Linked DNA regions of Homo sapiens. The protein of the gene in region 7 interacts with the protein of the main gene of each other region in a biochemical or structural test. Each region holds a gene or a part of one and is shown on either strand. Other genes may lie near its edges. The genes, in order: SCN5A, SYK, MIP, LMO7, AKT1, DRD2 and CALM1.

Region 1 (3,500 bases), on a different chromosome or scaffold from region 7:
CCGACAGCTCGGCGAGGTAGGTTAGGAGCAGCCAGCCCAGAGCCGGCAGGTGAGACTGAGGTGGCCTGGGAGGCATGCGCCCGGTGGAGGGGCTCCATGGGAGAGCTGGAATGGGGCAGCCAAGCCCCTGCCTGCTCAGGCTTCGCCAGTTGACCCTGTTACCTCAGGGTGACAGTTCTCTATGTTAAAAGATTTGCATATGCTAAATAGGATTGTCAGCAGCTGAAGAGGTCCTGGGGGTGATTGGACTAGTAAAATATTTTTCCCTGAAAAAGCCTTTTCACAAGACCTATGGGACCACCTGGATCTTGCCCCAAAGAGGTCCTCTGTGTGGGTGCCATCAGGATCCCGGGCTGAGCCAGAGAGGCTGGGCCTGACCACAGTGCCCCCTCTCTCAAAGGTGCCATGGTTCATTCCCCTCTAAGGGCACGAGAACTGGGCCTGACCATCCCTTTCCCTGCACAGGGCGCAGGGCCAAGCTCCGCTCCCCACTCCCATGTCTCTGTGTCTGGAGAGGAGCTGGAGACCACACAGAAAACTCCTCCGCGTATGGTCCAGAGAGCCCTGGGAGATCGCCAGTTTCCTCTCTTCAGGCAGGCTGAGGGGCCGCCATGGCTCAGGGCTGGTGAACTTCTTAGCCCCAAACCCCCATGGCTCAGCCCTCTCTTCCGATGGCTGGCTGGGCAGGGCCTGCCAGGTTCCAGGAGCAAGGACAAGCTGCATGCCAGGCCGTGAATGGGGCTTGCACCCTTGTGTCCTTTGGTTTTGTTAATACTCTTACAGGAGGGGAAGAAAAGGCAACTATCAGTGCCTAGGGCCAGCCCTGGGACCCAGGCCACTCTCCTCTGGAAGCCTTTTATTTTTGTAGGACTGACAATATGACCTGCGTGAAAACACAGGGGGAAAATGGGACCTTGGAGACAATAGGGGGCCAGAGTGAGCCCCGTGGACAAGAACCCCATCCTTGGGGGGCCGGCAGGGAAAGGCCTGTCTCCCTTAGGCTGGGAGCCTGGGTCCCACGGCCTGTGTCTGGCCTCCGTGTGTGAGGACTGTGTGTGTGTGCTTGTGTGAGTGGGGGTTCAGCCCTCCCAGCATCTCAGGTCAAGTGGGAGGGGGACCCCATTCGACCCCTGGGCAGTGAAGACCTGTGGGAGCCACACTGGATTCCACTTCTGCTTTGAGAACAGACTTCCGGCTGCTCCATAGACACTCTTGTTCAGGGTTAAGAAGAGACAGCGTGAATTGCTGCCCATGTCCATGGAAAAATCCTTAGTTCTTTGCTCAAGTAAAAAAATATCAAATATAATAAATTTATGAAAGCCCATTCACAACATATACAGTCTCAGTTTTATATTTCGCCTCAGCAGCTGGGATGAAGTTGCTTTCCAGAGCCGCAGGGCATTGCCTGACCAGACCAGGTCACAGGTCTATCTGAGGCCTCCAAGCACAGGCCAACTGCTCCGGCTGTCCACGCGGCGCCACAGAACTCTGCCTGGTTGATCCGCGGGGCTGAGGCCCATTTCTTACTCCCAAAGCCAGGAAGGCCCCAGGCTGGTTTGTGACTGACTGCATTTAGGTTTGCCATGGTGAAAAAGGCTGCTTTTCAGTGTGTCCTGGCCAGCCAGGCCGAGGCTCACACGATGGACTCACGGTCCCTGTCCGGAGAAGGGGGGAAGTCGGCGAGATCTTCACTGTGGCTGTAGTCAGACCCCCGCACCTGGAGGTTATCGCTGGTGGCTCTAGTGACACTGTCATAGGAGGGTGGGAAGGAAGTGGAGGAGATGGAGGAGCTGGAGGGTGGGCCAAGGGGTCGGGAGAAGTTCTCACTCATCACGTAGGCGATGAGGCCCTCTCGCTCAGGGGCATCCTCTTCGGAGAGGCCGCTGCCCGCCTGCTGACGGAAGAGGAAGGAGGCATGCTTCAAAGAGCGTTGCAGCAGGTGCCTGCGGAAGGCTCTCTGGATAACCATGGCCGACACCTCTTCGTGCTTGCGCCGGAGTGTGGTGGTGATGGGCTCGTAGGAGATCTTGGATGGGTTGGCTGCCATGAACTTCTCCTCCATCTGGATCTTCAGGGCGTCCATCTCCCCAGACTCCCCCAGGACCCTTTTGGTGAAGGCAAAGAGAATGTCCATGCAATGGATGCGGTCCCCACTCACCATGGGCAGGTCCATGTTGATGAGGCTTATCTGGTTGGGCTTGGCGATACGGAGTGGCTCAGACAGGGCATCGGCAAAGTCAGACAGGACCGAATACTCAATAAACTGAGTGGCCTCTGGGTCAAATTTCTCCCAGATCTCATAGAACATATCGAAGTCGTCCTCACTCAGGGGCTCGGTGCTCTCCTCCGTGGCCACGCTGAAGTTCTCCAGGATGATGGCAATGTACATGTTGACCACGATGAGGAAGGAGATGATGATGTAGGTGGTGAAGAAGAGGATGCCCACGGCTGGGCTCCCGCAGTCCCCCCGAGAGCCATTGCTGTTGGGCAGAGTGGGGTCGCAGTAGGGCGGCCCAGTGTTGAGGATGGGGCTGAGGAGGCCATCCCAGCCGGCCGACGTGGTGATCTGGAAGAGGCACAGCATGCTGTTGGCGAAGGTCTGGAAGTTGAACATGTCGTCGATGCCAGCCTCCCACTTGACATAAGCGAAGTTGGCCATGCCAAAGATGGAGTAGATGAACATGACGAGGAAGAGCAGCAGCCCGATGTTGAAGAGGGCAGGCAGGGACATCATGAGGGCAAAGAGCAGCGTGCGGATCCCCTTGGCCCCTCGGATCAGTCTGAGGATGCGGCCTATTCGGGCCAGGCGGATGACTCGGAAGAGCGTCGGGGAGAAGAAGTACTTCTGGATGATGTCCGAGAGCACAGTGCCTGTGGGAAACAACAGAGACTGTGGCTACTGGTGGCACCTCTGTCTTCCAGCCAGCATCACTGTGCAGGGGTTGGCGGTGGGGGGGGGGTCTCTATATGGCAAGGAGCCAAGGAGAGGCGGCCCTTCCAGGATTGCGTCCACTGGGCATGCTAGGACTCTGCCTGCTCCTGTCTGTTTGAGTCTCCATGTCTGCATCTGTGACCCAGAAAAATGGGTCCTTTGCAGGGTTCCTTCTCAGCCCCCTCATTCCTTAATCTTCAGTGTGTACCTACACAATAGAGCTGTCCTAGGCCCATCTTCTACATCTTGGGTTCTCAGGCCAGAGGGGATCTGCTTAGTATCTTGCCCACCCAGCTTGGGCCAGAACTCAGGTCTTTTAGCTCCTTGCTATTCAAAGTGTGGTTTGAGGACCAGCAGCCTTGGGATCTCCTAGGTGCTTATCAGAAATGCAGAATCTCAGCTCCACCCCAGCCCATTGCATCTTAAGAAGCCCAGATGATTTATGTGCCCATCGAAGGGCATGAAACACTGGCCCAGAAATCAGTGCTCCCTGATGCCACGCCATGGCCAGTGTCTTCTCTCAGCTTCTCTGTGATGGTTCTTATCGCTCTCCTAACTCTGCCTCCTT
Region 2 (3,500 bases), on a different chromosome or scaffold from region 7:
ATCATTCTGTCTTACTCCAAGTGAGTTTCTTCATCTCAACAACAGCTTTAGATGAGAAGAACACAATTACTCCCTTGATGGATGTAATCAATTAGCAGTGATTGGTATTTTCAGAAGTCATCACTCATGAGAACATAAGGTCAGCCAAACAGATAAGACTTAACTGTCACCTCTTAGAAAAGCATTTATTTAAAATGTTTCTTTAAAAAGAAAGTGTTCTTCCCAGTGAGAAAGGAGATTCCATGTCAAGATATTCTGAGGCTGAGTCTATCACTAGGCCAAGACTGAATGACTACAGGAAGAAAAAAAAGACAAAACTGTCAAATGAGTTCTTCTCTGAACAACTAGAGCTAACAGAGCTGAATCCAAAGACTATGTCTCCCTGTCCCTCTGTCAAGGTCCCTGAGTATGGACCAATAAAGGAAGGCACAGGAGGGTGGGAAGGCTTCCCAAGGAAATCAGGCTGCTCGGCCCATCCAGGGGTGGGCCCTGTCCCTTAGGGGATAGCTTCCAGATGTGTGGGGGCACCTGACAATACCTGTTCTGCTGCAAATACTTATTGAGGGGACCAAGTTCTGCCATCTCCATAACCAGCATCCAGGACTCGGCCTCGCATATCCCGATCATCCGCACGATGTACGGGTTGTCCAGCTGCTGCATGACATTTGCTTCTGCTAATAACTCATCTTTAAGAGCGGGGTCATTGGCCTCGTTTTTCAGTATTTTCACAGCCACGGTTTTCACAACTCTGCAAGAGAAATCATAACACACAAGAAACTTTCCAAAATGCCTCACTTCTAGATAATCTTATCCTGTGAAGCATAATCCCCCTGTGGAAACAGTCCCACGGAAATACCTGCCACAGAGTGGCAATGTGTCTTCAGAAGCCTGTAATGGATGGCTGGCCTTCCAACCTATATTCCCTTATTTTATAGACAATGAGAGTAATACTCCATTACTAAAAAAGAATGGTGGGGGCTGGGCATGGTGGCTCATGCTGACAATCCCCATACTTTGGGAGGTTGAAAGGGGAGGATTGCTTGAGGTCAGAAGTTCAAGGTCAGCCTGGGCAACATAGTGAGACCCCCATCTCTAAAAAAAATCACCCAGGTGTGACAGTGCAAGCCTGTAGTCCCAGCTGCTCGGGAGGCTGAGGTGGGAGAATCACTTGGACTCAGGAGTTCAAGGCTGCAGTGAGCTTCTTGCCACTTCACTCCAGCCTGGGTGACACAGTGAAACACTGTTTCTAAAAAATAATATAAAATAAAAAGAATGGTGAAGAACAGTACTGAAGAATGTCCCAACCAAGCAAAAACCCTAAACTGTAAAATATTTAAATAACTTGTAAATAAACTTCACCAACGATGACATGTACGAATTCCTGTAACATCTTGGGATTCACCATCTCAGATTACATGTAATGAATGTGAATATAAAATGCCTTTCATAATTGTTGAAAGTGAATTTCTAGGTGCAGAATTTAAAAGCATATATTTCAATGTAATACATTGAAAAGGTAAACAACTCTCCTGAGAGAGGCTGAAGAAGACCTGGTAAATGGAGAGATGGGCTGTGTTTATAGATTGAAAGACTCAGTATTGTAAAGACATCATTTTGCCCCAAATTGACCGAGAGAGCCTCTCCTCTCCCCAAATTCTCTAGTTGAAATTATGTCCACAGTCATGTCTATGTTAATTCACAAATTTAAGCACAGAATAAAGATCACAACCTTTCATAATCTGAAAAAGCTTAGGATTAATACAGAAACATTTTTACTCATTGTACAAAATGACTGTGATATACAAACATATATTTTAAAATAAGTATCACAGCCAATTTTGATTGTGTGTGTATATATGTGCGCATGTATATACTTGTGAATGTATACATATGTGTGTATGTTTGTGTGTGTATACATACATGTATGTGTATCTAATTTACACACACACACATGCACAAAAACAAATCGAAGGGACAGATTGGAAAGCAAGCATTTCTTTTTTCTTTCTTTCTTTTTTTTTTTTTTTTTTTGAGGCAGAGTTTCACTCTTGTTGCCCAGGCTGGAGTGCAATGGTGTGATCTTGGCTGGCTGCAACCTCTTCCTCCCAGGTTCAAGTGATTCTCCTGCCTCAGCCTCCTAAGTAGTTGGGACTACAGGTGTATGCCACCACACCCAGCTAATTTTTTGTATTTTTAGTGGAGACGAGGTTTTACCATGTTGGCCAGGATGGTCTTGAACTCCAGACCTCAGGTGATCCACCTACCTTGGCCTCCCAAAGTGCTGGGATTATAGGCATGAGCCACGGCACCCGGCCGGAAAGCACGCATGTCTGTGTATATTTTTGTCTATATTTTTAACCCTTGAATCATAAAAATTACCTACTCACGAATTTTTTTTTTACAAAAATCCCTTACATTTGAAATACCATGAAGCTACTAAATCTAACCACATTCATATTAGTATCATACCAATTCAAACAGAGGGTGTATTTCAAAGGACTTTAGAAACCAGTAGTTTTACTTGTACATTCTATGTTGGGTACCTTCTAAAGACCAAAAGAAATACAAAGATATTTTCGAAATTTAGCAATTTTAACTGTTGTATAATATGTATTGTTATCTGAAATCATAGGATAAAGCCAATAAATAATTATACTAATCATATTTGGAATCAATAATTTTCATGTAAGAAAAATGAGATGTAACTATAAAATTAAAGAAAATAAATGTAAAAACTATTGTTATAATGGAATGATTTTGTTTTAATTAAATAATATCTGTGTGTACAAATAAAGATCTAAAAATATATACAATAAGATTAAGTTAACAGTAGTAATGTTTAGTTAACAGTAGTAGTGTTGGGATGGTATTATACAAATATGATGTTCTTCTTTTCTTTTTTTTGTTTTGTTTTTTGAAACAGGGCCTTGCTTTGTTACCCAGGCTAGAGTGCAGTGGTGCAATCATGGCTCACTGCAGCCTTGGCTTCTTGGCCTCTTGAGCAGCTGGAAGTATATGTGTGCACTACTATGTCTGGCTAATTTTTTATGTTTTATTTATTTATTTATTTATTTATTTTTTTTGTAGAGACAGGGTCTTGCTATGTTGCCCAGGCTGGTCTCAAGCTCCAGGCCTCAAACAATCCTCCTATCCCAGCCTCCCAAATTGCTAAGATTACAGGCATGAGCCACCATGCCAATTTGATGTTTTTATTTTCTTATGTTTCTGCTTGTTTCTATTTCCTAATTTTCCATAAGGTGCATGTACTATTAGGTTGGTGCAAAAGTAATTGCAGTTTTTGCCATTAAAGGTAATGGACGCTTTCATTATAATAGTACCAGAAATTAACAAGAATGGTAGCATTAATAAAAAAAGGGTTTAGTCATGCCAGGTTACATTTTGTTATTCTCAGTCATGTCTAGAACCTGAGCTCATGTGAGGGTGAGGCTGGTGGAACATAGCAACTTACTTTTTCATTTGGTAGTAGCCCTTTTTCACAG
Region 3 (4,163 bases), on a different chromosome or scaffold from region 7:
AGGGAGAAACCCCATCTCTACTAAAAATACAAAAAGTAGCTGGGCGTGGTGGCAGGCGCCTGAAATCCCAGCTACTCAGGAGGCTGAGGCAGGAGAATTGCTTGAACCCAGGAGGCGGAGGTTGCAGTGAGCTGAGATCCTGAGATCAAGCTCCACTGCACTCCAGCCTGGGTGACAGAGGGAGACTCCATCTCAAAAAAATATATATATGTTTTTAAGTGTACAGTTTAGTAGTGTTAAGTATATTCACATTGTTGTGCAACCTATGTCTAGAACTTTTTCATCTTGCAAAGCTGTAACTCTATACCCATTAAACAACTGCCTATTCCACCCCACCCCCATCAGCCCCTGGTAACTATCCTTCTACTTTGCGTCTGTGAATTTGAGTACTCTAAATACCCCATATAAATGTAATCATACAGTATTTGTCTTTTTGTGACTGGCTTATTCACTTAGCATAATGTCCTCAAGATTCATCCATGTTGTGGTATGTGTCACAATTTCCTTCCTTTTTACAGGTAATATTCCATTTATGTATATACCACATTTTGTTTATCCATTCATCCACTGAGGAACACTTGGGTTGCTTTTACCTCTTGGCTATTGTGAATAATGCTGTTATGAAAATGGGTGTACAGCTTTGAAAAATTTTTAAATTATTTCCATATGTTTGGCTTGCACAACATCAACATAACCAATATTTATTGAGTGCTTACTTTATATCAGATTCTGTGCTAAATGTTTCTCACATATAACTTTCACACATTTCTCGTAATGTCCCATTTTATAGTAAAACAAACTGAAGCACAGAGTGATTATTTGCCCATGGTCACACACAAAGCCGATAACGTATTAGAACTGGAATGGGGCTGAGGCCCATCTGTGCTCACAACACATCTTGATCTCTGAGAGCAGAATTTATTCTGCTCATATTTAGTTGTCTCTCTTCATACCCGCTAGTTCAGCAACCAGTGAATACTCAGTGCATACTCCCTGACTAACCAGAGAAGGAAAAATATGAGCAAGAGCCTCTCCTTCTAGCAAAATCATGAATCCTGCTCACACAGGCATGCCAAACTCTCTGACAGCCCCCTTAGCTGAGTGCTGGTACAGCAGCCAACACACGCAGAAGGAAAGCAGGAATCCAGCCTGGAACCTGCAGTCCACAACCATCCAGAAGGGCTTCAGGATCTTGCCCCTCTCCCTTCACTCACCCAGTGGTTAGTGAAGTTCCCAGTGAGAATGGCAGGAGCAAAGGAGCGGGCAGGATTCATGCCTGCACCAGTATAATACATCTGCAAAAGAGACAGTTGTAACTGAGACACCCCCCTACTGCACCCCAGCTTCTCTCCCCACAACCCACATTGCCCCTGAGAGCTGCCATCTTTTCTCCAGCCAGCAGCAAGTGGAGAGGGACAGCCTGCATGACTCTCCAGGGGTTCCTGCAATGGGGTGAGGGCAACTGATGCCCTGTCTGGGAACAGACTATGGATCCATAGGCAAAGCCCATGTCTAGCCATGATACGTTCATTTCTACCTTGGGGTCAAGAAGGACTAGATATAGCAGTCACAAGAGAGGGATAGGGCAGAGTTGATTCCTTTGTGCCAGTAGAGAGTGCAATGGACAATGTTCATGTTTGACAGTGAAGTAGGCAGGAAGAACCCTTAAAAGTTGGGAAAGGTTTAGGGGCCCCGGAATCCTTGAATGAGAAGTTGCTCTCCTTCCTGCTTACCCCAAAGAGGTGCCCCAGGGCAAGGGAGAAGCCAACGGCCAGGGCCACGGAGCCCAGTTGGCCATTCCGCCTCTCGTCGTATGTGGCAAAGATGCAGAGCACGAACTGGAGCGTCAGGAAGATCTCCACTGTGGTTGCCTGGCCCACGCTCACCGCAGGGTGCAACTGTGCAAAGGAAGAAGAAGAGAGACAGCTCAGGAGGGCTGCCACAGTGTTACCTCCTCAAGACTTCCCCGGCAAGGATCTCGTTACGGCATCAGGTCCGTGGAGAGGAAGGATAATACAACCCCCTTCATAATCATTGTATTTGCATCTTACCATCTCCTAACAGTGCTCCTTCATGATGGAAATGATTGCAGCCACTTACATGTATGAGGAAACTGAGGCCTTGAAAGGTAAAATAAGTTTCCTTAAGAACCTGCAAGGAGTTGGAAGGAAAGCTGAAACTCAAACTCAGGTTTCTTAATTCTCAGTCCAGGGCCCTATGCCTTCCTTAAAGCTCTAAACCACCTGTCAATCCTCACCACTTCAACACACACATGCTCACACATGCACATATTGTCCCAGACCCCAGGGGAGCTGATTCACCTGCACCAGTCAGGGAGTCAGGGCAATAGAGAGACAGGACACCAGGTTCCCCATCCCCTCTCAGCCAACCATTACCGTGTTGAGTGCTAGGTTTCCTCGGACAGCAGGTGGGGTAACGCTATACAGCACAGCGGCCCCAGCCACAGCTCCCAGGAGCTGGGCTGCCATATAGCAGAAGGCACGGAGCAGGGACATCTGGGAGCCCACAAGGAAAGCAAAAGTGACTGCAGGATTGACGTGGGCTCCACTGATGTGGCCCACAGACTGCACCAGTGTAGCCAGGGCCAAGCCAAATGCCATAGCCACCTGCAGAACATGCAGGGGTCCAGGAGCCCAGCGCAGTGAGGACCCCAGCCCAAAGAAGACATAGAAGAGGGTGGCAAAGAACTCAGCGAATATGGCCCTCCAAAAGGAGGCTGATCGCAGTTCCCACATGGCAGGGGGGATGGTCACAGTGCCTGGGTCCCTGCTACCCCCATGGCCTTGTCTGGGTGGACAGTCCCCTTTATAGAGGACTCTTAATCCCTGGGAGGGGCAGGCTGAGGTAGCAGGCCCAGCCTCTTAACCCCTTCACAGCTGTGGAGGGCTAAGTCCCCTCCCCTACATGGTAAAAATGCTGGATTTTCCCGCCTTTCTCAACTGGGAGATGAGCCGAGAGAGCCATGGCAGTGAGGGTGGGATTGGGGTCACAGCAAGAGAGACTACGAGAAGTGGGGGTGAAGAACAGCAGGACTGGAAGAGTCTGCCCTTCTGTGTGTGTCAAAATTGGGGTTCATTGTCCTGATTGACATCAACATTAGAATACTCTTCAGCTCTCTTTGGAAGGTCCATCAAGCTGAGCTCACTTCATGGCATTTGGGGCTGAGCTCCTGGGGGCCTCAGCCTCCTCTGAGTCTGCCAGGGGTAAGGGTTGGGGGGAGTGGTAAGGAGTGGGGTTCAGCAGGGAAGTTGGATAACTAAAGAGAATTCTTTAGTTCCCAGGGATTAGAAGCCTTTCTCCCATTGGCTAGTTTGGGCTGGAATCTGTGGACCCTGCAGCTCTGGGACAAAATAGTTCTGCTGCGTCTGGCTTTCTCTGAGCCCGGGTTCCCTACCCCCAGTCCATGACAGCACCTCCCTTTTCAAACCCTAGGCCTGGCTTTTTAAACTACAGGGACCGACAGAGAGAAGACACTATCATCCCTGCATGGGCTGGGAGTGGGGTTGGAGGGATAGGAATAAGAAAGGGACTCGTAGTTAAACCTTAGAATCAGCTTGTATTTCATCTTTCCTAACTCACATGGTCATAGCAAGAAGTACTGAAAGGAAGGAAACAGTCATGGCTATGAAGCAATGGGAAGGTCTAATGTCCTTTAATACAGCCATGATCAGCACACCCTAAGCCTTGATCCCCAGGGAAAGGTATGGGTGTGCTGGGATCAGATCTGGGGAAACAGCCGATCAAAGAGAGGGAAAAGGATAATATGGGGAAGGAAAGTTTGGGGAAAGAGGTTCAGTTGTGCTCGGGCTTGGTGAGGGACTTGGGACCTAGGCGTGGGGTTGTGTGGTGATGGAGAAGGTAGAATGGGACATACTGATAGGTTCTACCATCTCCACATAGTGGCAAGTCATACCGGCCACAAACTTTTCTCATGAAGCACCAGAGAGCAGAAATTCGAGGTGAGGCCTGCAAGAATGGTGCCCAGCATGGGTCCTACCCAGTACACCTGTGGGGAGAGAGAAGGAACACAGATCAGGGGCTGTGCTTTCTCCTCATAATACCCAGCTTGGGGATGGACAGAAAGAGAGTTATAGTGAAGGTAGAGGGTCCATCTAACCTATCCACTGGCAGGAAGAGTTGCT
Region 4 (3,500 bases), on a different chromosome or scaffold from region 7:
GTCATATAATTTACCCCTCACTACAGGGAACACATCCAGCCACTGAAATGGTTGTACATGTTGACATTTCCACCACATACTTGTACTCTGGGTACTTTTATTTCCTTTAAGAAAAGCAACTATTTCTGAGAGCTGCTTACATTATAAAGTTATATTTAATTTACAAATGAAAATTTTTCTGAAAGTTACAATTCAACATGCTTAAAGCTGCAAAGAGATTTTTAATCAAGTTAAAACAGCTTTCCTATGACTTGAGAGTAGCAAATGTTTAAGCATCATGCAGATGAGCTGGAAAGCGGATAATGTGCCTTTGCATGGCACACGGAAAGCATGCAGGGACCCTGGTTTTTAAAATCAGTGGCTAACAAGTACTTGCAATTTGTTGCCTGTGGCTCAGTTACACCTTTGGCATCTAGAATGGTTATACTGCTTTACATTTAGTAGCTTCCAACATTTCTGAATTATCAAAGTTATAAAAAGCTATCAAAACTAGAGATTCTTATAGATGAAGTAAATCCTCATAAGGGAAGATACTTAGCTACTGAGGCTTGAGCAGATTAAAACATCTGTCATCCTTTAACTCTCTTCCTCTTGCTCAAACACTATTAGCCCTTAGATTCACAAAGTTACAGAAAGTTTGGTGGAAAATATTAAGATATAGCCACCTTGTGATTTTGTACTAAGAATGAATAAATGATTTACTGTAAATGTAGTTTTTGCCTGTAATCCCAGCACTTTGGGAGGCTGAGGTGGATGGACCACCTGAGGTCAGGAGTTTGAGACCAGCCGGACCAATCTGGTGAAACCCCGTCTCTACTAAAAATACAAAAATTAGCAGAGTGTGGTGGCATGCAACTGTAGTCCCAGCTACTCAGGAGGCTGAGACAGGAGAATTGCTTGAACCTGGGAGGTGGAAGTTGCTGTGAGCCAAGATTGCGCCACTTCACTCCAGCCTGGGCGACAGAGCGAGACTCCATCTCAAAAAAAAAAAAAAAAAAAAATGTAGTTTTTGCAACAGTGATATTAGAAATTAAAAATATTTTTGCAGTTTTTGAAGGTCTATTTTGCACTATAAATATAGCCATGTTATAACTTTTTTTTCCTAATCAGGAATCTTGAAAATATAATACTTCCAAATACCACCTAGGGAAGTTTAATGCATCCCTACTAACGAAGCTCCCAGTTGGCCGATTATAGGATAATGTCAACTGGGTGTATTCTAAACTTGAAGTAAATGCTAATATTCTTTTTCCATCACAGATTTTCTAAAATGTAGTAATTTGGGCTTTAGCATCCATAAATCAGAATTTTAGTCTATGTAGCAACCAAATACCAAAATACATATACCTAATCTTAGGCAAGTGCTTTTGTGACTTTTAATCAACTCATTAAATTTTTAAAAAGGAAAAAAGAAGGGATGAAGCTGAAGTTTAAATTTTTAATAAAACAAATAATTTTATCTTGCACTGGGCACCAAGACACAGAAATATTACCATTAGGTTGCAAGATAAACATTTCCCACTTAAAAAATATCATGCACAGCACACAACAACCCCATTTAGTGACATGCCATGCCAGAAATACAGTAAGTTATACAAAGAACAAACAACACGCACAGATTTTTTACTGTGAACCACACAACTTACCCATTCTCACCATAAATCTTTTGAAAGAGTCTAAGAAACCAGAAAACCAAAAATTAAAAAGTCATTTTTCCCAGTCATATTAGTTTCTAAACGTTCAATGTCTTCCACTTAAGAATCTAACTGGAGACGGACAAATCTCAAAAGGTCACTTCTTCCATCACATTCTTGATCATGTCTCAAGTTCTCATCAATTTCCTATCTCAGGAAATTCAGATTAAGCAAAATGAAGAATTTCCTCAATTTACTCTGAGCTAACAAATCCATATGAAAAGGCTTCCCATTGTCAGGAACTGTTAAGTTAGATTTGGATCCTCTAATTTTATTCAACCTAATCAGATTTGTCCATCTCTAAGTTCCACAAACTGAACATTCATCAAAAAGGCAAGTTGCATAATACAAACTATCAAAATGGCCATGATTACATACACATAAAATTCAGCAGACAACAAATACCATTCATGCATTTTAACATCAACGTTTACTCTGAACTTCATAAATAAAAATAAGTTACAAATGATAGTCCAAGAAACCTAGGCCAAAACCAAAAATTAAGTTAAATGAAATTTGCAATGCCATATTTTAAGGGAAAATTTCACCCCCCCAAAAAAATCAGACACTCTAAAATGTGAGCAACACATAAAACCAAACTATAACCAGACTGTTACAAAAATGCCTGAACATGAGAAGTCCAGAAACTTCATATTGGTGGATAGTACCACAGTACTGCTTAAGTCAAAGGCAAGGTTTATGTATATACAGTCTTAAACAGGCCTAAATAAGTTATTTAGAGATATGCAAATATGGAATTGCACTTTTTGTACAAAACGACTGAGGGTTTTTCAAAGCAAATTAAATTTTACGGGATGCTTCAAAATGGCACGCGACATGCAGAGTTGAGCAACACGATGAGCTGCTTTCTCGCATGAGAAAAGTTACACAAGACCATCCATTACAAGCAAAATCCTTGCAGAAACACACTCTGACCTCTCCACCATCAGCCTTTTCTTGTGCCTAAGTCTGCTGGCCTCCCGGATGGCCTCCCATCTCTTCAAGTCAGCCTCACTGCAGGGGCCAGGGGTGAAACTGATGGGAGGCACGGTAGTTCCCAGTTTCCAGGACTGAATCTTACGTGTCAGCATGTCATCTTTCTTCTGCCGATATGAAGGAACTAATATTCTACAGCTATTACTTTTTTCTTTGGATGGGCATGTCCTTTCAAGTACACAGAGAAATTTTGCTTGAATTTCTGGAGGAAGAGTCCAGGGTTCGGGAAAAGGGACTGGGTGGTATCTATCTGGGGCCCCAGACAGCGGCACTTCTTTCTTCTGTGCTGGAATTCGGCGAACAATCATATCATCTTTTTCCAAATCCGGAAGTACAAGTTCACCTTCTCTACACTGTAAAATTATATCTCGCTCTACAGAATCATCTTGCTCAGAGAACTTTCTAAAGTCTTCAAAAGCTCGGAGAACATATGGATTTGCATGGAAAGCCCCAGTCTTTCTGACAAAGAAATCATCATTCTCTAAGTCAGGATCCAGGGCTGCCATCTCGAGGTCATCTCTTCTATAGCCTGGTGCATAAGAGAGATTCTTCCTGCGGGTTATGAGCCTTGGGCCAGAAGTGGGATCAATTTTGGTATGTGTTTCAGAAGACAAGATGTCATCAGAGTATGTTTGGAGGGCCTGAAGCAGTAAAAACTGACTGATGCACAGAGAGGAAAAAGGAAAGAGAATCTTATTAAGCTTAGGGAGAAAAGGTAATTAGCAGATCGACTAGCCAAAGGTGATTAGCAGACCAACTAGCCAGTTACTGAGGGTAAATCATTTTAGAGGACCATTGTGGGGACTCTTG
Region 5 (3,500 bases), about 14 Mb from region 7:
AGAACCTGGGGGTCCAGCAAGTTCAAGGGAGTCGGAGGACCGCAGGCCTCAAAGAAAGGAGGGCAGAGCTACTTGGAGGGGAGGGGCCGATGCAGCACATGGGGATGGAACCTAAGGCCAGCCCCTGGTGGGCACCTCGCTCTGCACCACAGACCTGCCTGAGACAGATCCCAGAGGCCTGCAGTTACCCAGCCCTGCCACATACAGATGGCCCACAACTGGGCCCTAATTAGCCACTCAGTCACACCTGCATGCCCAACCCGTGTCTCTGGCTGCCACAGGCAGAGCTGGGCTCCAGGACAGGGACACAGAAAATGGGGACCATGCTGGGAGGCCCACGTGTCCCCAGCCTCCCACCTAGCAGGGCGCCTGGGTCTCCATGCCAGGGTTCCCGTCTGACATGGGTAGGGTCGCACCTGCCCCCGCTACAGGTAAGGAATAAAGCCACAGCAGGGCGGAGCAGGGAGCGTCACATGTCTCTCATCTCTGTGGGATGCTCCGGCCAAGGTCCCCCGCTGGCCTTTCTGCACCTGCCCCTCCATGGGCAAGGAGGCAGCCTCACAGAGGGGAAGCAAAGGCTCTGCCATGGGGTCTGGAGGCTGAGAGCCTGTGCAGGGAGAGGCACGAGCTCTTCCTCGAGTGATGGAGGCTTCAGAGCTGGAGACCCCAATGGACTCTTGCCCCCTCACCCAAGGGGTTTCCCAAGGAGAGGCCCTGATGGGCTCTATCTAACCCCCTTGGAGGAGGGGCCCCCGGGGCAGCTGTCCACCCTGAGACTGGGCTCTGCTGCCACTTGTCCGGACCCTCCAGCTTCCAGAGCATGGGCACCAGGGAACTGCTCCAGGGTCAGCCAGCCTTGGGACTCGGCCCAGAGACCCCCGCCCAGCCAGCCTCGGCCTCAGGACTCTGCCCAGAAACCCCTGCCCAGCCGGCCTCGGCCTCGGGACTCAGCCCAGAGACCCCGGCCCAGCCAGCCTCGGCCTCGGGACTCGGACCAGAGACCCCCGCCCAGCCAGCCTCAGGACTCAGCTCGGAGACCCCTGCCCAGCCAGCCTCGGCCTCGGGACTTGGACCAGAGACCCCTGCCCAGCCAGCCTCGGCCTTAGGACTCAGCCTGGAGACTCCCACCCAGCCAGCCTCAGCTTTGGGACTCAGCCCGGAGACCCCTGCCCAGCCAGCCTCGGGACTCGGCCCAGAGACCCCCACCCAGCCAGTGCTTGTTGCTTGCCAGCCCAGGACTTGGAGGCTCCAGGGGACCCCCATCGTGGGGCCTGGTGGGCAAAGAGGGCTCCAGCCAACCCCCCAAATCTGAATCCCGAGAGGCCAAGGGGATACTTACGCGCCACAGAGAAGTTGTTGAGGGGAGCCTCACGTTGGTCCACATCCTGCGGCCGCTCCTTGTAGCCAATGAAGGTGCCATCATTCTTGAGGAGGAAGTAGCGTGGCCGCCAGGTCTTGATGTACTCCCCTACAGACGTGCGGGTGGTGAGAGCCACGCACACTCTACCCGTCAGACCCTCGCCAGGCAGCCAGGCAGGAACTGGGTGTGCCAGGACAGATGTGCCTGGGATGCCTGAGTCCCAGGGGGCAGGCGCGGTACGGGAGCTGTTTCTTAGGGCCAGCGACAGAAACGGCCCTGGGTCAACGGGAAGGCAGACTCGCCCCACCACAGCGCCCCTCTCAGAAGAGCCACCCCGAGCTGTGTCTGAAAACGGGCTGGGCCAGCTGGACGCAGGGGATGGAGTACCATGGACAGGAGGCTGGGAAGAGGTCTGGGCCAGTCTGCACAGCCTTCCTGGAGGAGGCAGCCCTAAACCAGCCAGTCCCCAGCAGGCACCAGCAGCAGCTCGGGCCCCAGCTATGGCCACAGGGGCTGCGGGGCTGACAGCATTCCCCAATCAACCAGGGTCGGCCAGGTGGCGACAGCAGGTGACAGTGGCTTGTGTGGGCTGCCCAGCATGGCCGCCCCCCCCGCCCCGCCGCCACCCACCAGGAGGATGGAGCATGGCGTCCACAGTTAGAGGTCAGCACCACTCAGACTGAGGGCCGGGCTCGCGGGACAGGACTGCCCACTGCCGTGGGATCGCACTCCCTGTCTAGGGGCCTGGAGCACCGTCTTGGGGACTGCCGATGAAGCCAGACACGGAGGTGGCCCAGCCAGCTGGGCAGGGGCCCCAGGGCACAGAGGGTGCCAAGTCCCCAGGCTGAGACCCACACTCAGGCCCTGCCGCCGTCGGCCCTGCCGCGTCCCACCCGTGGGTCATTCAGGTACACGGGAACATTCTCCCTCAAGTTTTGCAGCATCAGCCGTACGCAGGCGTTCACACTTCAGAATCAGAGCAGCTGTCCTCGGTGATAGCCCAGCAAGTACCATTTTTCATACTGACACTCGGAAAAAAATGTTCCACTTACATTTTGCCAAGCAAGGAGTTTGAACAACAGGGAACTTACTAATTAGGCAACTGCTTCATCTGAGGGGTCACTGGGCAGGGGTTAGGGAGGGGGCCAGGGTAAGGGGTTGGGGTCCCTGAGCTCTGGGGCCTGGGTTTTCATGCCACACTGAGCCCCAGACAGGGACACCTGGAGGGATGTGGGGGACAAGCAATTGTCCCATCACCAGACCACCCACCACCCAGTCCTGCTGGGTCTTCGTGGTGAGCCCAGACGCGTCCAGCCCTCCCTGGTGCACAGGGAAGTCCCAGCAGGGCAGCAGCCCCAGGGGAGCTCAGAGGACATGGGTCATGGGCATCCCAGCAGGCATTCTACTTTCCAGGGAGCCACGGGGGAGTTCTTTAATAGAGGTGAGCCACCAAGGCTCGACACATGGCCACCCCCCGGCCAGGTGACCTCTCCCTCCTACCCCGGCCCCAGCTGCCCAATGCCCTTCCCACCAGCACCACGGGGCGTGGTCTCCACAAGACCAGCCCTCTCTCTGCCCAAGCCAGGGCTGCTGGGGGGATGCTGGTGGAGGGTGGGGACACCCCACCCAGCAGGGCCTGAGTGTGGGAAGAGGCTGTTGTCAGGTCTGGGGTGGACCAGGAAGGGGACAGCCACAGCCCACTCATAGCTGCCTGACACCTCTGGAGGACGGCCAACACCCAGTTGCAGGGAGGATGATCCAGGGCCCAGAATCTGCCCCTGTGCCCAAGAGCACTCATCAGGAGACCCCACCCACTCCGCAAGCCCTCCATGCCCCTGCCAGTGGGCTGCCGAGCAGGCGTGGTCCTGCCACCCTTGGGTGCCGGCTCCTGTCCCTGACCTGGGATCTCGCACACCCCCGAGTGTGCACATACACGCACATACGTGCCACGCAGCTCCACCCCGCCTCCCACGTCCCCTCCCCCAGCCACAGGGCCCCTGCAGGTGCAGCGGGCAGGCAGGGGCGCTCAGTGAGAGCAGAGCAGGCTCAGGGGGCTGCATGCAGCCCACCCCACCCGTCCCCCATCCTGGGCCACCCCGCTGCTCACGCCCACCCGCCTGCATGCCAGTCTGGAGCTGTC
Region 6 (3,500 bases), on a different chromosome or scaffold from region 7:
ACTGTCTTCCTGGGAGCTCACATGGGGGCCCCGTACCAGGGCCTCTCTCCCAGCTCCCTGTGCTGCTGCGCTGACCAGTTTGGCAGGAGCTAACAGCTGGATGCCCATTTTGCGGGTGGAGGCAGGAGGGTACGTAAAGGGCTTTCCTGGCATAAACAGAGTGTGCCTTTAGGGTACCACTGGGCAGAAAACCAGCACTACCTGATTTACATCCCACTTTGAAGCCCCTCCTGGGACCAGTACTTGGGAGCCACTGGGGATCTAGGTTGAGATATCAGGGCCTTCCTCCCTGTCTTCCTCCTCTCCTTCCCTCCTTTCTGCCATCCCTTCTTTCCTACAAACACTTATTGAGCAAATTACTGTGTTCCAGCCTCTATCCTAGGCTCCTGGACACAGTTGTGAGCAATTCAGACACAGTCCTGCCTTCATGGACATCTTAAATCTCTCCTTGCACTGGCCTATCTGGAGCCCAGAATAACAAAGAGATTTCCTCTGTGGTCCCAGGGGAAGCTGCCTTGGAGAGTAGTTAGGGCTGCTAACTTAAAGACTCAAGAAAATGCATTGGTGGCCACTGTCCATAAGACATCTACTGTGGGCATTGCACTTTATCTCATGTATCGTTCTTAAAACTTTTACAAGAAGGGCTTGCTTATCCCACTCATAGGTGAGGGAACTGAAGCCCAGAGAGGCCATGTAACGTGGCCAAGTTCACCTGGCAGGTGTGCAGCAGAGCTGGAATCTGAAACATCACATCCCATGCTCTCTACTAAGCTGCCCTGGAAGGGACCATCTAGCTTATCAAGAGAGGAGATAATTAGGTGACAAGTACTTGGTAAGCATGAAATGTGAAAAGGAAAGATGATTATTTCAAGGGTGGACAAAACTAGGGAGGGTCAGAGAAGAAAACAGAACAAGATCACTTGGTGATTTAGTAGCAGAGGAAGGAGTGGCCCCAGGTTCCCTAGTCGAACCCAAGGCTCTTTTCTTCACACCCCCAGGCATCCAGGCATCATTCCTTAATGCTCTTGCTCACATAAAGCTGAGACCTGCAGTACAGGCCCTGAGCTGGCTCAGCTAAGTCCTAATAACTGTAATAATACTAAGGACTTACCATGTGTCAGGCACTGTTCCAAACACTTGATGCTTATATCTTAGAATGCAGACAGTAAGCCTCAGAGGCAAATGACATAACCACCTCTCCTCCATACCTCCAGCCAGCTACTCCCTCTCCCTGCTGGGTGGCTTTCTTGAGAATGCAAGTGTCTCCCTCCCTCTCCTGCATAATTTTTCCGAAAGCATCATTTCTCCCTGAAAGTCTTCCCTGACACCCTCATGCTGGGCCTTATGCCCCACACCTCCTATGGGGACTGCTCCACTGTCACCGGCAGCAGACTGCACTGTAGGGGCCCTGTCAACCTCTGCATCCCCAGCAGGTCAGTGCCTTAGCCCATTGCACAAGGATTGGGGTAAGACCTCGGAGTGCTCAGTCAGTGCTGACTGAGTGAATGAATAACTCTGAGATATTTGTTCATCTTCTCAATCTCCTCATCTAGAAAATAAATGCACACAGGAAGCCGCTCCTTAAAGGGTTGTGAGGCTGACATGGAATGGCACATGTGGACATCAGGAACTCTTCCAATAGCATCTAGATGGAAAGGAATGGAGCTGGGAATTGAACCTGGTCCTCTCACTCCAAAACCAGCGTGCTTTTCATACACTTAGCAAGATAAATAACGCACACTTAGTCCTAAGCCAGACAGATGTTGGCATGGCATTGCTGGAAATGGAACAGGAGGAAAAAATCTGGATGACAAGAGCATGTATTAGAGAGGGGACAGTGCGTGGTTGTGAGGGTGCGCTGATAGGACATCAGGGCAGGGTGAGACGTCACCTGGGACGTTCTCTAGGGACAACAAATCGCTGAGATAATGTCCATTAAACAAGGCTCAGTGCCCAGCTCTAGTTTGATGAGATGCTGTGGGGAAGTCTGAGCCCTGCCCTCTGAGAATGGCTTCTGCACCCTCCTCCCCTGACACACTCAGCTTCACCTTTAAAATAAGGTGAACAAGCATGTTTAAAGGATCTGTTCGAAAGACTTACAGATTCCTGGGAACCCCCTATAGCCCATGTATGGATTTGTCCCTACCCAAGTGCCTGGGTAGGGACAGGGGGTCTGGAAGCTAACAGAAGCCATGCCCAGAGCCCTGGGTAGAACACACGTTCCTCTGGGAAGAGGGTACCTACTTGCCTGGGGCGAACATAGGGAGTACTCTCTCCTTCCTCTTTATCCCAAGGGGGCGGTGAATAGGAAAGACAGAGTCCTCCCTATGTGGAGCAGTGCTGGATGTCTATTGTCATCTTCATCTTTATCATCATCGCCATGGCTGACATTTACACAGTGCTCACTGTGAGCCATGTATCATTCTAATCACTTTTCATACATCAACTAATTCGATCCTCAACAATGCTATGATGTATGATACTATTATTATCTGCATTTTCCAGATGAGGAAACTGAGGCACAGAGAGTTTGTTTGCTCTACCATTTTTCCCTATGGTCTGAGACCTAGGACCCTCCTTTGGAAGAGGGAAGAAGGAGGGGATCAAGCGTAAGAATTAAGAAGGCATGGACAGAGTCTAGGGGCCCTCATAAACATGGATCCAGGGGGAATTGGACTCCTGGCCTGTGTCAACTGAATATTTTTATGTGGTTTTGTATTTGTGTTTCCTTTTGGTTCTTCCTTAATATCCAGTCAGGTCATTTTGGAAGTTGCAGCCTGCATTGGCTGTAGTAAAGGAAGCCAAGGGGTGATGGATCAGAGCTCCCTTGGGCCCGGGGTGGTGGTGAGAACAGTAAGCGCACGAGCCCCTTGGGGGCCCAGGGACAGGGAGGTGTGCCACTTTCCACCAGTCTCGCCTCCTCACCTGAGCGTCCTCATCTAGATTTCTCCCCTGTTTAAACCTACAAAGCTTTCTCATTTTCTTTCAACAACCCCTTCCCTCTCAGGCAGGGATGGCCTCAGAGGCACTGGTCAATTCCTCTCCTGCTCAGGGAAGGAAGGTAACGGTTCAGTGGGCAGAGCACCGGCACTTTCCTAAATGCCTGATCCCATGCCTTCCCATGCACCTAGACTCCCAGATTGCTTGAGTCCTGGACATGCCATCCTAGAAAGCTGGGCAGAGAAAGGGGCAGGATCCAGCTTGTGCCCACCGATGATCCCTAAATGCTCCCACATCTGCTCGCTGGCTCTGAAGGTGTCTTCCTGGAGAATAATATCTGCTTTGGGATTTCTCCATCAGCATTTCTCCCTGTGACCTGGGTGAAGAAAGGCAACTTCTCCAAAGCTTCTATTTCCTATTTTGTTTTTGTTTTAATTTAATTTTATTTTTTTTTTGAGACAGAGTCTTGCTCTGTCGCCCAGGCTGGAGTGCAATGGTATGATCTCAGCTCACTGCAACCTCTGCCTCCCAGATTCAAGCAATTCTCCTGCCTCAGCCTC
Region 7 (3,500 bases):
TTTAGGATACGCTGCAGGACCACTAAGAGTCCACCCAGCTTCTAAAGACTTGAGGGTTAGAAGGCTACATTTCGAAAAAACAAGTCAAATATCCCCCTCCAGCCCCCTTTGAAACTACCGAGAGGTCATCGACCACAGGCCTGAGACTGGGTCAGCAATCAGGCTCTTTGACCACCCCCTGCCACAAGAAATATCCAGGACATTAACTTACTCAAACCAGGAACCCTATCTCACCAGAAGAGAAACCCCAAGGTAACCTTAGGCATTCCTTTCAGATTCAGGTAATTACAAAAGCCAACCCTTAGCTCATAGTGTCAACATCTCCTCTACCAACCACCCAGCCCAAGGACCAGTAGCAGAAGCACATGGGCGATGTCTCCCCTCCACTGCTCTGACCCACCCCTCTGGCAGAAAATCTAACAAGCTACAAAATGCCAGAAAGACAGGGAGTAGGAGAAGGAGAAGCCAAGGGTCTCTATAAATCAGCCCTGAATGCACCCATTTGGCTGCCAAGAGCTTCTCACTGCCTTGCTAGCAGCCTGCCACTGTTCCCTGGCAAATTGAAACCACCCACGCAAACACTCAAAACCCCAATCTCCTTGCTAATAAGATACAACCAGTTAACACCGTGAAAAATGCACATCTCCAGCCTTCATTTCAAAAAAGAGCTCTGTACTAAATGCAATATGCTTTTAAAGGGGGTTTTACAGGGACCAATCTCAATGCAAAGACCAGTACCAGATGTCTGAGTTTTGGTTACAGGTTTATAATTAGACACAAAATTCACTCCACACTGGAGTTTTACTTTCAAGCTGGAAGCTAGCATTAGTTCTACTTGGGGGGAAAAAAGCAAAGTCAAGTCAACTTGGGAAAAAAAAAAAAAGGAGGAGGAGGCTAAGTATAATCATAAATTAAAAGTCGCGAATCAAAGGTGACTGGTAGTGTCTTTTAGGCATGAAGAGACTGGCTTACAAAAGTGACTACTGCTTCTACCACACACAGCGAAGATTGAATTACAGACACACTAAATCATGTCTCTTGCAGATGGTCTCAAGTAGTTACATAAGACAGGTAATCAGCAGCACAATTGAGAACAACCCCTAAATACATGCTTGAGAGAAAGTGGGTTTTTTTTTTTCCTTAAGAGCTCTACTGCCTGAATAGATCATTAAAAGTTACCATAATTCACCTTCCCCCCTCCCCCCAGTGAAAATGCAACTAGACCTACATGTCCATAAATAGGATGAAGCAATCGGTATCTGCTTGTTTTCAGGCAAGGTCTTGGGCTCAGAGGTTGGTGCTGGGGCCTTGGGAGGGAAACCCAATGCTGGGCTGTGGGCATTTACATGTACACTGGCCTCCCCTCCACCTGCCTTGTCCCCATTTAGATCTCAGCTTTACAAAGCATTTAACACCACTTTAAGTTAATGGTCTTTTTATTGGAAAAAAAAAAAAAAAGACTAGCATTTACAACTTGGAATGGACGTAAACTGTAATTTCTTTGAACAGCAATGTTGATGGTTGTGCTGAAGTCCACAGCCACAGCCTACTCTGCCGGCTCCAAGTCATGGTTCAGAAGGTTTTAAAAACAGAGAGTCCAAAGATGCTCCCTTGGTAAATGTTTCTTATTAAAAATTTGTGTGAACAGTGACAGCCTGACACCTGTTTCACTCTAGAACAATGCAGACAACGCTAAACCAACATACACGGGCATGCCACCAGGGTGTGTCATCGTCACCATGGGTCGGAGCACACGAAGTACAAGAGGACCATCCTACCAGTGGGGCCACGTCTCAACGGTTTATCCTTCACCCATTTTTCTGCACGTCATCCTGAGGTAAACCAATTTTAAATGTGTTTGTTTTCAGTAAACCAGCTATGACAATTTATACTAAACAAATTGAACTAGAACCCATTTGAATAGGTTTTGAATTTGTTTTTTCATTTTTCATTTTTAATACAAAGGCCTGACTGTGCTCAATCGTCAAGCTGCATGCATGAAAAACTGGCCAGCCCAAACAGTGTATTAATCATTAGCAAATGGAACTTTAAGGAGTCCTTATCATTAAGGTAGTACAAGTATTTATATTGTAAAACTGATGTGTAGCTTGATCTTTAGGGGACAGGACCACCAACCAATACATGCAGATTTTGTGTGTGTGGACAGAAGGTACTTTTGACATTCAGTTTTGCTATATAGAAACAGAATGAATAAATGAACTTTTTTCTTTTTTCTTTTTTTTGCAAGAGGTAAGTAAAAGATTCAATTTGATTCTTCTAGAGGGGGGAAAAAGGAGTTGAAAGTAGGTCTTCATTTTGCAGTCATCATCTGTACGAATTCTGAAAAGACAAATATAATAGTAACTTTTGGTTATCTTTGAAAACAGCTTTAATGAACACAACATCTTTACTGTACATAAAATAAAGTCAAAGGCTGTCTAGTGAAGCAGTTGGCTTGCTTACAGATCTAAAGGTAAGACTATGAAACACTGAGCTCAGAGAATTTAGTTTTACCTTCATAGTTGACTTGTCCGTCTCCATCAATATCTGCTTCTCTGATCATTTCATCTACTTCTTCATCTGTTAGTTTTTCTCCTAAGTTTGTCATGACGTGACGTAGTTCTGCTGCACTGATATAACCATTGCCATCCTGTGAACATTCAGCAATTGTTATTGCTAATGATGTAGTGTGGGGAAGTAGGTCTTTGACTTAGCTATGCCCTCTCAAGTTACTGCTAACTCTGCTGCCATAAACAATTCTCTGATCTCTAGTTCCCACCTCTAACCTACTAAATACATGCAAACAGCTAATGCAGAAAACAGGATTTGCAAAAGCTCACAACAATTCAAAGTAACAGTCAAGAAACATGGTCCAAAATTCCTATTTATTATGCCTACCCTCCCCTGATACGGTTACCATAAGGAGGATTTTTGAAAGTGAGATCAGAGGCTCAGGCAGTTAGATTTAAGTCTTCTGTCTATAACATTATTATAGCTTTTAGAAGTGAAAGCGGAAGAAGCCATACTTAAGTACCATCTGCTATGTAGATGCTGGATTACCTTGTCAAAGACTCGGAATGCCTCACGGATTTCTTCTTCACTATCTGTATCTTTCATTTTTCTAGCCATCATAGTCAAAAATTCGGGGAAGTCAATGGTGCCATTACCTCGAATTAAAAAACAAAAAGCTCATGTAAAGTAAGCACTCCATTAACGCTGCTCTGCAGTAATCATTTCAGAACCACTGTACGGAACGGTAAACATGTACTAGGACAAAGGGGCAGACTATCTTACTAGGTTCAATCATCTGCAGGTCTAAAACGTTCAAACACTTCACAGGGCAATTTCACATAATTTCAAACTCATCATCAGTGCCCAGGATAGTATTTAATTATACAAAGGAAACTGCACATCTGGATTCAAGCCCATGGAAGGGTCATGAAGGGCTGTACAGTTCAAGAGAAAAATAGCATACACCACTCCGCAGGCTGAATCTTTCC

What was found.
Region 1: the proteins of CALM1 (region 7) and SCN5A are reported together in a solved structure, tested with the Homo sapiens proteins (2 studies listed by BioGRID, with this or other methods).
Region 2: of the proteins of CALM1 (region 7) and SYK, one has a biochemical effect on the other in vitro, tested with the Homo sapiens proteins (2 studies listed by BioGRID).
Region 3: the proteins of CALM1 (region 7) and MIP form a complex in vitro, tested with the Homo sapiens proteins (2 studies listed by BioGRID, with this or other methods).
Region 4: the proteins of CALM1 (region 7) and LMO7 form a complex in vitro, tested with the Homo sapiens proteins (one large-scale study listed by BioGRID).
Region 5: the proteins of CALM1 (region 7) and AKT1 form a complex in vitro, tested with the Homo sapiens proteins (one large-scale study listed by BioGRID).
Region 6: the proteins of CALM1 (region 7) and DRD2 form a complex in vitro, tested with the Homo sapiens proteins (one study listed by BioGRID).

What each region holds. Positions count from the first base shown.
Region 1 is NC_000003.12:38,548,688-38,552,187, forward strand, and holds part of SCN5A (sodium channel protein type 5 subunit alpha), read right to left. Parts: intron 2,872-3,500; coding exon 1,634-2,871; 3' UTR 1-1,633. UniProt on the Homo sapiens protein: Pore-forming subunit of Nav1.5, a voltage-gated sodium (Nav) channel that directly mediates the depolarizing phase of action potentials in excitable membranes.
Region 2 is NC_000009.12:90,874,819-90,878,318, reverse strand, and holds part of SYK (tyrosine-protein kinase SYK), read right to left. Parts: coding exon 3,470-3,500; intron 749-3,469; coding exon 539-748; intron 1-538. UniProt on the Homo sapiens protein: Non-receptor tyrosine kinase which mediates signal transduction downstream of a variety of transmembrane receptors including classical immunoreceptors like the B-cell receptor (BCR).
Region 3 is NC_000012.12:56,451,858-56,456,020, forward strand, and holds the start of MIP (lens fiber major intrinsic protein), read right to left. Parts: upstream 2,801-4,163; 5' UTR 2,757-2,800; coding exon 2,397-2,756; intron 2,191-2,396; exon of another isoform or gene 2,055-2,190; coding exon of another isoform or gene 2,052-2,054; intron 1,899-2,051; coding exon 1,734-1,898; intron 1,296-1,733; coding exon 1,215-1,295; intron 1-1,214. UniProt on the Homo sapiens protein: Aquaporins form homotetrameric transmembrane channels, with each monomer independently mediating water transport across the plasma membrane along its osmotic gradient.
Region 4 is NC_000013.11:75,807,330-75,810,829, reverse strand, and holds part of LMO7 (LIM domain only protein 7), read right to left. Parts: intron 3,351-3,500; coding exon 2,631-3,350; intron 1,677-2,630; coding exon 1,647-1,676; intron 1-1,646.
Region 5 is NC_000014.9:104,778,749-104,782,248, forward strand, and holds part of AKT1 (RAC-alpha serine/threonine-protein kinase), read right to left. Parts: intron 1,469-3,500; coding exon 1,340-1,468; intron 1-1,339. UniProt on the Homo sapiens protein: AKT1 is one of 3 closely related serine/threonine-protein kinases (AKT1, AKT2 and AKT3) called the AKT kinase, and which regulate many processes including metabolism, proliferation, cell survival, growth and angiogenesis.
Region 6 is NC_000011.10:113,419,899-113,423,398, forward strand, and holds part of DRD2 (D(2) dopamine receptor), read right to left. Parts: intron 1-3,500. UniProt on the Homo sapiens protein: Dopamine receptor whose activity is mediated by G proteins which inhibit adenylyl cyclase. Positively regulates postnatal regression of retinal hyaloid vessels via suppression of VEGFR2/KDR activity, downstream of OPN5.
Region 7 is NC_000014.9:90,403,529-90,407,028, reverse strand, and holds part of CALM1 (calmodulin-1), read right to left. Parts: intron 3,168-3,500; coding exon 3,061-3,167; intron 2,651-3,060; coding exon 2,515-2,650; intron 2,341-2,514; coding exon 2,312-2,340; 3' UTR 1-2,311. UniProt on the Homo sapiens protein: Calmodulin acts as part of a calcium signal transduction pathway by mediating the control of a large number of enzymes, ion channels, aquaporins and other proteins through calcium-binding. Calcium-binding is required for the activation of calmodulin.